3 separate regions of the Homo sapiens genome follow, and all the other regions are linked to region 1. The links come from fine-mapping of genetic effects on gene expression. A gene starts in region 1. Each other region holds a variant in brackets. All regions are shown on one strand. Distances are between the middles of the regions. Region 1 holds the start of KCNQ3 (potassium voltage-gated channel subfamily Q member 3). Region 2 overlaps KCNQ3 (potassium voltage-gated channel subfamily Q member 3). Region 3 overlaps DNAAF11 (dynein axonemal assembly factor 11).

Region 1 (4,240 bases):
GTCTCTCCAACCAGACCCCGACCAACACCTGCAAATAGACACACACACACACACATACACACGCACACTCATACAGACACCAACATCCACGTTTCTGGGAAAATGCCCCACTCCCACCCCACCCTTCCTGCTGGTTCCTTAGTTTCCGGGAAGGCACCCTCTCCGGGCTTGGTAACCTCCTTGAAGAAACCTGTTGCTAAGTCTGAGGTCCTGTGTGGACGCCCCCACCTGGTGGCCGAACCTAGAAAAACGTCTCTAACCAAGAAAAACTGGCAGGTAGTGTAACTAACTCCAAGGCTCCTGAGCCCTTCCGACCACATCAGTCATGGGTGAATTGGAGGAGAATAGAGAGGAAAATCCACTGCTAAACGCGTGGGGGAGAGAGGGGGGAGGGGGGGTTGCCAAGGTCATAGGCAATTCCCTGCCAAAACCCTGGTACAGTACAGCTTCCTAGAAGCAGCCATCAGGATGACTAAACCAGAGCCAGAAGGCAGAGCTTGATGGCTGGACGTGCCCTGCCAGCTCCGAGATGGGTGCTGACAGCACAGATTTCCAATCTTGAATGAGGAGCACCCCCACCATCCTCTCCCCCCTCCCAAATACGGGTGGATTTTCCATCCCCAGTGGCAGGTGCAGAGGGAGTTCCTTCTTCCTTCTGGCCATGCATTTACATCGGACTAGCAAGGAGATTCTTTCTAGGAGAACAGTGCCTGGGTGCAAACCTCCAGGCCAAGCCCCTCACATTCCCGGTGCCCTAGGCCAGCCAAAGCAGGAGAAGCAGCAGCGACTGAGGCTGAGGGAATATCGGATCCCAAATCAAGGAGATGTTTCAGCCAAAAGAGTCCCCGGCCCCCTCACCTCCTGGCTCTGTGAAGCCCCAGCCCCTCAGTCTAGGCTTAGACACACACGTTCCCATTCACTTCCCTAAAAGGAATCCTAGAACATGCATTTTGGCCAGTCCCAGCTCCCAGTCAGAGCAGCACCAGGTTCTTCTCTGTACCAGTACCCAGCGATCAGAAGGGTGGCACAAGCAAGCGACACACACACACACACACACACACACACGCTCCCCACTATGGGTGGTGCGCACCCCTCCCATCCCCAACTAAACTCAGTGGCGATCCCAACAGAAGGGATCCACCCGAAACAGAAACACAGAGCTCACGGGAGGACCCGCTTTATCCTCTTCAACCCTCACATTAATTGGAAAAACCCACATAATTATTTTAAGCTTCCAAACCAACACCCCTAGAAGATGTCATAAATGTGCACCCGCGCGCGCACACATCCGCCCAAATCAGCAGGGGAACCACGCTTCGTTTTTTAAGCCCCTAGTGTGGAACACCCGGAGAGCGGCAACACACACACACACACACACACACACACACACACACACACACACCCAGGGAAACGCGTGCTGAGGACGGGCTGGTCTCCCCTTCAGCGGGAAAGCATCCATGGGTCTTAAAGCCCCAGAGACTTCTCAGCTCCAGCCCCGACCCCAAGTCCCCAAGCGCGCCGCCGCCGAGGGCGCCCCGAGCGGCCGGGTACTCACACCAACGCGTGGTAAAGCAGCGCCCAGCCCCGCGGTCTCTCCAGGGCGTCGTAGATCAAAGTTTGGATGCGCCGGTACTTGGCGTTGTTTCTCTTGACTGGGCGGCTCAGCGGGGTCTTGGCCAGGAGCCCGATGCCCTGCGGGGTCCTCCGCTGCCCCTCGTCGCGGCCGCCGCCCTCCAGCAGCAGGGTCCCGTCTTTGTCGGCTCCGGCCCCGAGCGCCAAGGTGACTTGCTCCACGTCGCCGGGCGCCAGCCCCACTTTCCGCTCCTCGTCGCCGGCCGCCGCCGCGTCCCCTCCGGCTGGGTTAGCCGCCCCGCCGCCTCCGCCGCCCCCGTCGCCGCCGCCGCCAGCCGCCCCCGCCGCCCTGCGCGCCTTGAGCCCCATCTGCCTCGCCCCCGCCGGCCGCTTCGCCTTCTCCGCTGCTGCTCTGGGAAGAAGGGGCGCTCGGGGTGCGTGAACGAGGCGGCGGCGGCGGCTGCAAGCCCGGGAACTCCAATGCCATGATCCGCGCGCCCCTCCCCACCCCCCCCCAAAAGCAGGCAAAGGCGGGCCCCCTGGGGGGCAGGGGAGGCCAGGCAGGGGGTCAGGGGGTCACATCCCGCGCGGGTCAGCCGCAGGACCCCGAGGGTCGCGGGCCGGGGGCTGCGGAGAAGCTGGGAGGGCGCGCGAGGCTGGCGCGGAGGCGCTAGGGCGCGCGGCGGCGGGAGCCTGGAACCGGCGCTCCGGGGCGGCGGCGGCGGCGGCGGCACCCAGGCCGGCGAGCCCAAGACAGCATCGCAGTTTATTTACAAGCCCGGTGCCAGCCGCCCTCCCGCCCGCCAGCCACACGCGCCGCCGCCGCCGCCTCCTCCCTCCTCCGCGCTCCCACCCGCGCCCCTCCCCGCCCGTTCCAGCCTCAGCCTGTCAGCAGCAGCAGCAGCGAGCGCGCCGCGGGCCGAGAGCACGCCGCGTCCCTCCCTCCCTCCTTCCCCGGGGTGGGGCCCCATTGTCCCGCCCCGTCGCGGCGGGAGGCCCGGGCGGCGGCGCCCCGCCTCTTCCCGCCGACCCCCACCGCTGATTGTCTGGGGACCCAGGATCGCCTGGGCTACCGCCGCCCCCGTTGCAACCAGGCAGTGCGCCAGGCGGCTGCAGAGCCCGGCTCCTGGAGCTCCCGTGGGCGTTGGGGCTTCCCCTGGATGGGGCGTGACGGCGGGCAGTTGGGGGAAGAAGAGGAAGGGAGGAGGGACTGGGGGGTTGTCGCCCACCAAACATTGGCTCTGTGGTTGCAGCTTTGTGAATTTCCCTCACCCCCTACCCCTGCTCCTCGGCTTCAGAGGTAAAAGCCAAGTTGTCGGGTTGGTCAAGGCCGGGCGCACCGCGAACGCACCTGCTCTGTGGTAGCGAAGCTCGTGACTCCCTCTTCCCTCTTCCCTCTTCCCTCTTCCCTCTAGTTCGTGGTTCATGGTGGATGCCGCGGCCCTCTCCTCCCCCAATCTTTGAATAGCACCTTCACCTGTCTGGGTGGGCAAAGGACTGAAGAAATGCAGTCAGAATCTTTGATTCCTGCTTTGCTCCCGACTTGCACCCAAGCCAGTCATTCCCTCTCTGGTCCAAATTTCAATTCAATCAACCAATCTGTAACCCCTCGTGAGCTTCCCTGGCAAAGGGTAGTGATCTCTGTCCTGAAGATATGAGGTCTCTGCACTCCTAAGACCTCCGTCCTAGCCGGTGGAAGACAATGAAAAGACAAATTTTAACAGTAGAATTTCCGATATTGGTAAATAGTATGTGGTAACAAATTAGAGTGCTGCGCTATAGTGACTGGGGGAGTCACTCTAAACCGGCTGGTCGTGGAAGGCCTTATTGTGGAGGTGATGCTTCGAGGTGAGACCCTAATGACAAGCTGGGAGCAACTATGTAAATGTCCAGAGAGCCCTCCAAACAGCAGAACAGCGGGTGCGGAGGGGAAGGGTGGCTTGAGCTTAATGAGAGTAGGCCACAGGCAAAGGCTAGATCTTGTAAGACACTGACAAAGGACAGGAGCATCCTGCACTTCTTCCATGCCCACCGCCATCGGGGAAGCCTCCATTCCTGCTGCCCCATGGCATCTGTGGCCTCCTTTCCTTCCCACTCTCTCACCTCATGTCTGTCAGCTGGGGTGAGAGACATGGGGTGAGGGGAGACCCTGTGAACAAGGCCGAGGATCTATCCCTAGTGTATAAGAAAAGAGGAATCAGACCTGCAAGAACACCAGCTCTGGATTTGCCTGGAGAAGTTGGCCAAGGAGAGCATAGGAGACAGGGAAGGGAAGAAGGAAGGGAAGGGAGTAGGAATGTATGGGCTGGGGCAGGGGAAGGGTCAGAGAACCACCACCCTATAGAATGACTATCAAAGGGGAGAACCTCAAAAGAGGTCTCCAAATCAAGAAGGGAGGAGTTTCCAGAGGAAGTTAAACTGTAAGACTGAAATCATTAAAACAGTGTGGGATCGGTACAAAAATAAACTCTCAGTGCAACAGAATTCTTTGTCCAGAAACAGACTCTAGCATGGGAACTTAATATTAAACGGGAAGAGTTCATGACAAGAACCCCAGGGGAAAAGGCTGTTCACTGGTTGATGGGTTTTGTGAGGAATTATAGGAAATAGCATATGGAAACGTGGCAGTGCCCAGTAGGACCCCTGTACATCCGTGAATAGATAAATG
Region 2 (4,240 bases), 61 kb before region 1:
GGAGACCCATGAGCCAGCCAGAGGGCAGCAGAGTGAGGATGGCTTCAATCCACCCAAGGTCCGTGGTGCAAAAGCACTCCTGGCTCTAGTTGAGGGGAATATTTCTCCACCGAGCCACACCCCCCTCATCTTCCAGAGGAGATTTCCTGAGATCACCGGGATTGGATCAGGGACACGACACTTAGCATGCTGGCACTGTGATTGGGAATAAGAAGGCAGTGCTGGTTTTTTTCTGAGTAAGAACATATTACCCACACTGAGTGACCCACACGAAAACAAGGAGGAAACAATTACTTTGAAGCCTGAGGACAAGATAAATATAAACTCAGACCATAGGCTTTCTGAAGAGGAGCGGCATTAACTGGCAGCCAGCAAGAAGGGATCTGTGACAGAGCTGAGGAAACATCCGTGGCTCTGTGTGGGTTTAATGAGGCGTGCTCACGGAAGGCTGGCAGGAGAGCAGAAAAAAGCAGGCGAGGGAGGGAGGAGCTCTGGGTCTCAACCCGACTCTGCCTCTAATGGTCTCTGTGACTAGGGGTAAGTCATTTATTCCCCACTCGGGTTTCACCCTCCTCAATTGCTAAATTTAAAAAGTAGATGGCCGGGCACAGTGGTTCACACCTGTAATCCCAGCATTTTGGGAGGCCAAGGCAGGTGGATCACTTGAGACCAGGAGTTCAAGACCTGCCTGGACAACATGATGAAACATCGTCTCTACTAAAAATATAAAAATTAGCCAGGTGTGGTGGTGCGTGCCTGTAGTCCCAGCTACTTGGGAGGCTGAGGCCAGAGAATCACTTGAGCTGGAGAAGCAGAGGGTGCAGTGAGCCGAGACCATGCCACCGGACTCCAGTTTGGGCAACAGAATGAGACTATGTCTCAAAAAATAAATTAAATAAATTTAAAAACATAAAAATAAAAAGTAGATAGTTGTAAGTGGTGTTGGGGTGTGGGCACAGAGAAAGGTGAGGAAAAGCAGCAGGCAGCATTGTGGTCAGACTTCTGTGCAAGTCCTAATTCAATCTTTAAAAGCCATGTGACGTAAAGCAAGTCAATTTCTAAGCCTCAGTTTTCTCATCTGTAAAATGGGCATTACAGCACCTACCATAAGATACACAAAGATGTAAGTGATCTCCAGCACATGGGAGAAGCATGAGAAAAGCGAGGCAACATCACTGAGAAGAGATCCATCTAAAAAGGTCAATACAATGCCTTCCAGTCCAAAAGCCTAATACTTCGGGAACTAAGGCATGGCAGCACTCTTTGAAGAAGGCAGAAATTCCTTCCACTGCCAGGCTCCCTGCTGAACAACAGTGTTCTCTCACCTTGGCTTAACCACAGCACCTTTCATCCTCTCAATTTTCAGCTGTAAAAACTTTGAAAACTATTAGACCATTTGTCTGGATTTCTGGATTTGCAGGTCACGGGCATCATTGAAGATAGAGCCACCCTAGTAAAATGCAATAATAAATGCAACATTTTTCATTTAATACTGCTTTTAAGAGCATTATCTCCCTCTGTCTTACCATTGTTAATACACTGATGGAAAATTCACACAAAAAACATCCAGTGCCTGAGTCCTGATTCCTGAGACCAGACAGAGCCTTTCTTAGCCTTAAAATGCTTTCCAAGAAAACCATCATGGGGGCCAGAGAAAAGACAATGGACAGCCACACCCATCTCCACCACTGAAGCTGCCTGTGCCCTCAGAGAGTGCTCTCTGTAGATCAGAAAAATGAGAACTGTTTTCTATGTAGCCAGTAGATACAGGTGCTATTCTAGGTGTTGTACCTCAAAACAAATCTTTGATGGTCAATATTATTAGCCCATTTTAGAGATGAGAAAACTGAGGCTCAAAAATCCCGAAGTGACTTTCCAAGGCAACACAGATATTCAGCATCAGTAACAACAACTGATAAGTCCTGTAATTGAGCCCAGTACTGTCTTACCGGAAAACCTGCATTCTTCCAAACATGTCAACATGTCATCTCTTAAAGGATAAAACGAACAGCACTCCCACGTTGGAATACATGGGTACTGTCTCAGTCAGTTTGGGCTGTTATAACAAAGTACCAGAGAGTGAGTAGCTTATAAACAACAGAAATTTATTTCTCACAGTTCTGGATACTGGAAGTCCAAGATCAGGGTGCCAGCATTGCTGGGTTCTGGTCAGGGCCCTCTTCTGGGGTGCAGACTGACACCTTCTCCTTGTGGTCTCATATGGTGGGCAGAACATGGGAGATGGGAGAGGGCTCTGGGGTCTCTTGTACAAGAGAGCACTAATCCCATTCTTGAAGATTCTCCCCCATGACCTAATCACCTCCCCAAAGCCCCACCTCCTAATACTATCACACTTGGAGTTAGGACTTCAACATATGAATTTTGGAGGGATGCATTCAGTCCATAACAGGTTGCCCACCCAAGGGAAGGAATATTTGGGTGGGTAAGTCCCGATGTGCCTTAGAAAACATCACTGCAGTGTCATGGACACAGATGATGAGGGTCCATCCACCTTCTGGGCTGCCACAGCCAGAAGACCAGCCTGGCGACATCTGCA[G/A]CTTGCCCTTTTCCCTTGAGCCAGAAACATCCAGCACCAGGACTTGATGTCTCCTCGGCTGACACCCGGAAGTGTGTGGGCTGTGTTCTTTTTTCAAAAGATAGAGATGAACCAGATCCCAGGCAGCACATAAGGGAGGTCACTGTGGTCAGAACAGACTCACGGAGGGAAGAATCCTCTGGGAAAGCATAAGTGTTTATTTAACTGCTTTATGCTTCAGTGAATAACTAATTTGTACCAAACCCCAGTGTTCTTGAGGTGTGTTGATAAATGATGTTGCAAAAGCAACATGTTTCTGTGCTTTCCATGTGTTTTGCATTTCTGGAGTCTGTGAGGAGAGTCTCTAACTGGGGCTCTAGATGCTGGGAAGCACTGCACAGAGGGCCCCTGGGTTTCTCTCCTCGACCTCGGTCACTCCAGCTCCCAGACCAGCACATAGTAGAGATGTAGAGATGCAAAAAAAACAAAAAACAAAAAAGTTGCTTGGGTTGACATGAAATACATTTAAATTTTAATCCCCAAAGTAAACATGATTTGAAAGGTAAACAGGAAGGCATGACTGGCATATACCAGGAGGAGTTTGAGCAGGGGATGTGGGGCAGAGGTGAATGTTTAAACGGCTCATACAGTCAACCTGCAAACATTAGGAGGGCTTTGCTGTGTTTTCTAAATTTTCTGGTTAGATAAGTGTATGTGCAGATGTAATACACAGTCTTGTGTTCCAATTATCTCTACATATGAATAATATATTTTAAGATATTTGATGACTAAATATATTCATGCATGTGAGGGGCACATAGAAGCTCTCAGGAAAATGGTAGCAGTCTGGGCCCAAGAAAACGTCTAGGAAAATGAAATTCCAACAGTTCATCACAAATTGTTCGATAAGAAGTCTCAAGAAGCCAACGCTGGGAAATGGGAAAGGCTCCCTCATAACTACCAGCTGACAAAAGGAACAGGTGACACGAGGTGCTGGCAGGAAACATTTTTAAAAGTTCTTCAAATCTACAGGAAGAGCGCAGAGGAGCAGAGGAAAGACAGGTTATGACCAAAATGATGCTGCCTGACCTAGGGTGTGTGGGTCGGGGGAACAAAATGGGGGATTCACTTGGGGCAGATGGTGGGTGGTAACAGATGACAGGTGAAAGTGGTCTTTTTTTTCTTTTTTAACCTCAACTGGTGGTTCTGTCTTCAGCAAAAACAATGTGTTCCAAAGGAAAATGAGGAACAAACCTCCGTAAGCAGGAACAAGTTGGAACATATGAAAGATCCTACCAGGATGCGAGACACTGGCCTAGATGAACCCTCCACCTGGATCTGGCTGCAGAATCACACAGGAAATTTATCTTTTAAAACAGATAATGGGAGAGACATCTGGATCCTGAAGATGGGCAAATACAGACTTCATTTTCCAAAGGGAGCCAGGATGGGCCAGGTTCAAATCCTCATACTAGTTCCAATGTTACAGGCTTTCCGTCTCCCTTCCTCTTCTGGTGGGATCATGAGGCCTCTAGTGCTGGGGCTGCACCATCAGTGTTAGAAAGAGAGAAAGGTTATACCCTCCACTCAGAGCTACAGCCTTTCTACCCAGATGCCTGGTCAGTGCCTCCACCAGCTCACACCAACAATGACTGCCTGCCAACACCAGATTTCACCTCCAAACTGGCTTGGATTTCACCTCCA
Region 3 (4,240 bases), 120 kb after region 1:
TGTGGAGAAACAGGAACACTTTTACACTGTTGGTGGGACTGTAAACTAGTTCAACCATTGTGGAAGACAGTGTGGTGATTCTTCAAGGATCTAGAACTAGAAATACCATTTGACCCAGTCATCCTACTACTGGGTATATACCCAAAGGATTATAAATCATGCTGCTACAAAGACACATGCACACGTATGTTTATTGCAGCACTATTCACAATAGCAAAGACTTGGAACCAACCCAAATATCCATTAATGATAGACTGGATTAAGAAAATGTGACACATATACACCATGGAATACTATGCAGCCATAAAAAAGATGAGTTCATGTCCTTTGTAGGGACATGGATGAAGCTGGAAACCATTATTCTCAGCAAACTATCACAAGGACAAAAAACCAAACACCGCATGTTCTCACTCATAGGTGGGAATTGAACAATGAGAACACTTGGACACAGGAAGGGGAACATCACATACCGGGGCCTGTCATGGGGTGCGGGGAGGGTGGAGGGATAGCATTAGGAGATATACCTAATGTAGATGATGAGTTAATGGGTGCAGCACACCAACATGGTGCATATATACATATGTAACAAACCTTTACGTTGTGCACATGTGCCCTAGAACTTAAAGTATAATAATAATAATAATAAACTATCTCTGCTAAATTCTTCCTTTATTCTCCATATGACACTAACTAAACATGTTAGACCTTCTCACTCTATTCTATGTGTTCTTACTGTCTTCGTTAATATTTTTTTTTCTCTATGCTTCATTCTGGATCTCATCTTCTTACTTTCCAGTGTAGCAGTGCTCTCTTCAGCTATGTCTAATCTGCTGTTAAATCTACTCATTAAATTTTAAAGTTATCATATTTCAATTTTAAAACATTTTTATTTCATTCATTTTCAAGTATTAAACCACTTTTGTATTTTCTGTTTCCTTATAAAACATTTCATGCTTGACTATTGCCTCCTAACATAATCAGCATCAACATCAATGTCACTACCACCCCACAACAGGGAGCAGCCATCAACCAAGGATCCTCAGGAGCTGGTGCACAAATGTCCCAGTTCCATCACCCCTTATGTAGGGTTGTGCTGAGGTATGTGTTTAGCACTGTCTTCTAGAGTTTTCCCACCAGGGAAGCTGGTTTAACAGAGAACTCTCTATTGGCCGCCTTCCCTTCCAGCATTCCCATACTTCCCAAATAAACTACTCTACTGCAATCCCTATGTAAATTTCTGCTTCTGAAAGACACCAAATTAAAACAGTGTTTTACAGTCTGTTTCTAACAATTTAATGCCCACAGCAACTGTGGGACCCTCAAGGTTGCCCTCAAGGAAGAAGAGCAACAACCTGCCATAATCAAATTCCAAAACTGGACTGGGTTTCTACTGAATCCTACTCATGTCCCTGTGTGTATCTAGTTTATCTTTGCATACTGGATACTTAATTTGAAATATATATATATATATATATATATACACACAGCACACATACATACATATGCGTGTATGTTTGTAATATATATAATTTGAGCCTGCCTCTTCTAGAAAGGATTTTCACTGGGTTTGCCAGGCATGTGTGGGTGTTACTTATCCAAGACAACCTTCACTCAAGCTCAAGTCCAAGTTAGATAGTGTGAAGACAGGCTGTGAGGCCTTCTGATGACTGGTTTACATCTTATTCACCTTACTAAAAGGTTACAATCCTTCAGAATCACACCCCAAAGTGAGAGCGATTTATTAGAGTCCCCTTTTTGGCAGGCTCTGGACATTAGTTGTTTTCTTCCCACCTGTGTGGTCACTGAAGGATTCTTTTTGTCCAGAGGACAGTGGCTATTCACTATCTTGGTAGGTACTGGTACTATTAAGATGTTTTTAAAATATGTAGTCCATCTTCTTAAGTTCTCAGTGTGATTGTTGTTCCTTGTGACTTAGTTGGCCTTTAGCAGATGACAGAGCTCTAGAGGTATTATGAGAAGATGGTAGTATGTAGGAAGGAGTACAAATAGAGAAGAACAGAGGTCTCAGAATTGAATTATTGCACACACCAACTTGCAGAAGCCTAGGTATAAGAAACAACCAGCAATGAAGCACCTGGTGGCAAAGGACTCCAGCAGACAGAAGTATCTGGTGGCAGAGTGAAAGCTGTGTATTGAAAGCCAAGTGAGCAAGGATTTAAATATGGAGGAACTGTATAAGGGATAAAAAGCCTACTAAAAGGTTAAATAAGAGGAGGACAAGGGATGATCACCAGGTTTAGTAATCTGGAGGTTATTGGAGACATCAAAGAGAGATGTTTTAGTGGGGGGTGGGGGTGTGGGGAGGACATAATGCCTAATTGGAGTTGATTTGAGAGATAATGAGAAAAGATTTGAAACAGCAAATAGAGGCGTCTTTTTTA[A/G]AAGTTTTGCAATGAAGTGGACCAGGGCGGTAAATAGAGGGGGATGTTTTTATTTTGTTCTGTCTTTGTTTTTTAAGAGGGGAGACCTTTCAGAATGTTTTCTAATGTAAGATTCAGAGAGGTGACATTCAAAGAAAAAGTATAGAGAGCAGAGAACTGCCAAAGGCGGGGGCGGAGTGGGAAGTCTTTTAAAAGCAAGTGGAAATAGGATCCAATACACATCTAGAGGGATTGCATACACCACAGACAGTTCATTCATAGAATTAGGAAGGAAGGAAGGCCAGGTTGCACAAGGGGATATAAATGCAGATAGGTTGGTAGCCATTATGGTTAAAGTTTGTGGAAATTATCTTTTGAGGCTTCCACTTTTTTCAGTTAGAAATTTCAGGAATGAGCTTCAGTTGGAAGTTTTATAAATGAGCTGAGAATGAGAAATAAAAGAGCAGAAGTATGGATGAAACAAGAAAACCTAGCAAGATGCCCAGGCAACACTATAGACCCACTTGACAATCAGAGAATAAAAGTGCATTTGTGTTGGGTATATCACCAGTATATTTGAGCAGAGAAAAAGTGGAATGTGTGCAACTAATAAGGAGGAGGTTGGTTTGAGATTGTGTTTTTTAGAAGTATGGTCTGTATTATTGACCTTAATATGTGATCTTCACTTCTTATGCTCAGTATAAACAGAATTAAGCAAGATATTCACCACTGAAGTGGTAAATATATTTTGCTGTTCAGTTCACATGGCAACTTCCTTAATCTCAGTTAATTATTCTGAAGAAACACCCAAAGGAAATCATGAAGCATATTCTTGGAGTGTTCCTGTAACTTGTCATTTAAGAATTGAGATGGCAGTTTAATTTAATGACTTGATGCAAGTGAACAAGCCTCTCAGTGCATGCAAAATTCCAGTTAAATTTTAAGTTGGACTGTGGTAAAATCATATGCTAGATATCCTCCGGATGATGATGAAAAGATTATGTACATAGAACTTAGTTTGATTACACATTTTAAAGAACTTGGAATGAAGGCCAGACATAAACTCCTAGAAAATGTGATGAGGAATAACCCCAACCAAAATAGAAACTAAAATCATACATATAATATCTATAAATAAACTTAGGACATGTGTAGCAACTATAGAGAGAAAACTACCAACAAAGAAAACCTTCTAATGGACATAAAATAAGAGTAATAATGGAGAGACACATTATTGAATATCCAATTTTGATAATGTAAATACATCAATTCATTCCTATTGCAATCTATAAATTCAATGCAATCTTAATAATTATAAAATACTAGCTAGTAGCAATTGATATTATTTAATAATATGCATTACTAGCAATGAATAATATTAACAGTAAACATTAATGTAGTGTGTATTATGTCCCAAGCGCTGTCCTAGGTACTTTATTTATATTCACTTGCATAATCCTCAAAATAACCTTTTGAGGTCTGAATTACTACTGATATCATTTTATGAATGAGGAATCTGAGGCACAGAGAGATGAATAATTTGCCAAGGTCACACAGTTGCTGAGTGAAATATCAGAATTTAATTCAGGTTCTCTGGCTCCAGAGCCCATTCCCTTAATCATTTCTTCCCACTGCCTCTAAATCCATGGCAATAAAAATTCCAATGGTCTTTTCAGAGGCGGAATTTGAGAAACTCATTTGAAAGTTAACCCAGAAAAATACATATGGAAAAATAATCAGGAAATAGTTGAGAGGGAGAGTAGTTTAGGGGAGACGCATGTTCTAAATATTAAAATGTATTTTAAAGATACATTTAAGGTATTCACTCATTCAACAAAAATTTATTGAAGACCTACTCT

The links. PIP is the estimated chance that this variant, and not a neighbour inherited with it, causes the effect. A credible set is the group of variants that fine-mapping cannot tell apart.
Region 2: its variant is the best candidate, but not a certain one, in a credible set for the expression of KCNQ3 in sun-exposed skin (GTEx, PIP 0.52).
Region 3: its variant is the best candidate, but not a certain one, in a credible set for the expression of KCNQ3 in blood mononuclear cells (TOPMed, PIP 0.59).

Annotation. Positions count from the first base shown.
Region 1 is chr8:132,478,592-132,482,831 of GRCh38, forward strand. KCNQ3 (potassium voltage-gated channel subfamily Q member 3) reads right to left here and starts at 2,504. Exons shown (of 15, transcript NM_004519.4): 1 at 1,556-2,504. The coding sequence starts at 1,941.
Region 2 is chr8:132,417,905-132,422,144 of GRCh38, forward strand. All of the region lies in intron 1 of KCNQ3 (potassium voltage-gated channel subfamily Q member 3), which reads right to left. Among named protein-coding and RNA genes, the nearest start is that of KCNQ3, 61 kb to the right of the region's middle. The variant G/A (reference allele first, on the strand shown) is at 2,558.
Region 3 is chr8:132,601,290-132,605,529 of GRCh38, forward strand. The region is part of intron 10 of DNAAF11 (dynein axonemal assembly factor 11); the gene reads right to left. Among named protein-coding and RNA genes, the nearest start is that of HPYR1, 42 kb to the left of the region's middle. The variant A/G (reference allele first, on the strand shown) is at 2,403.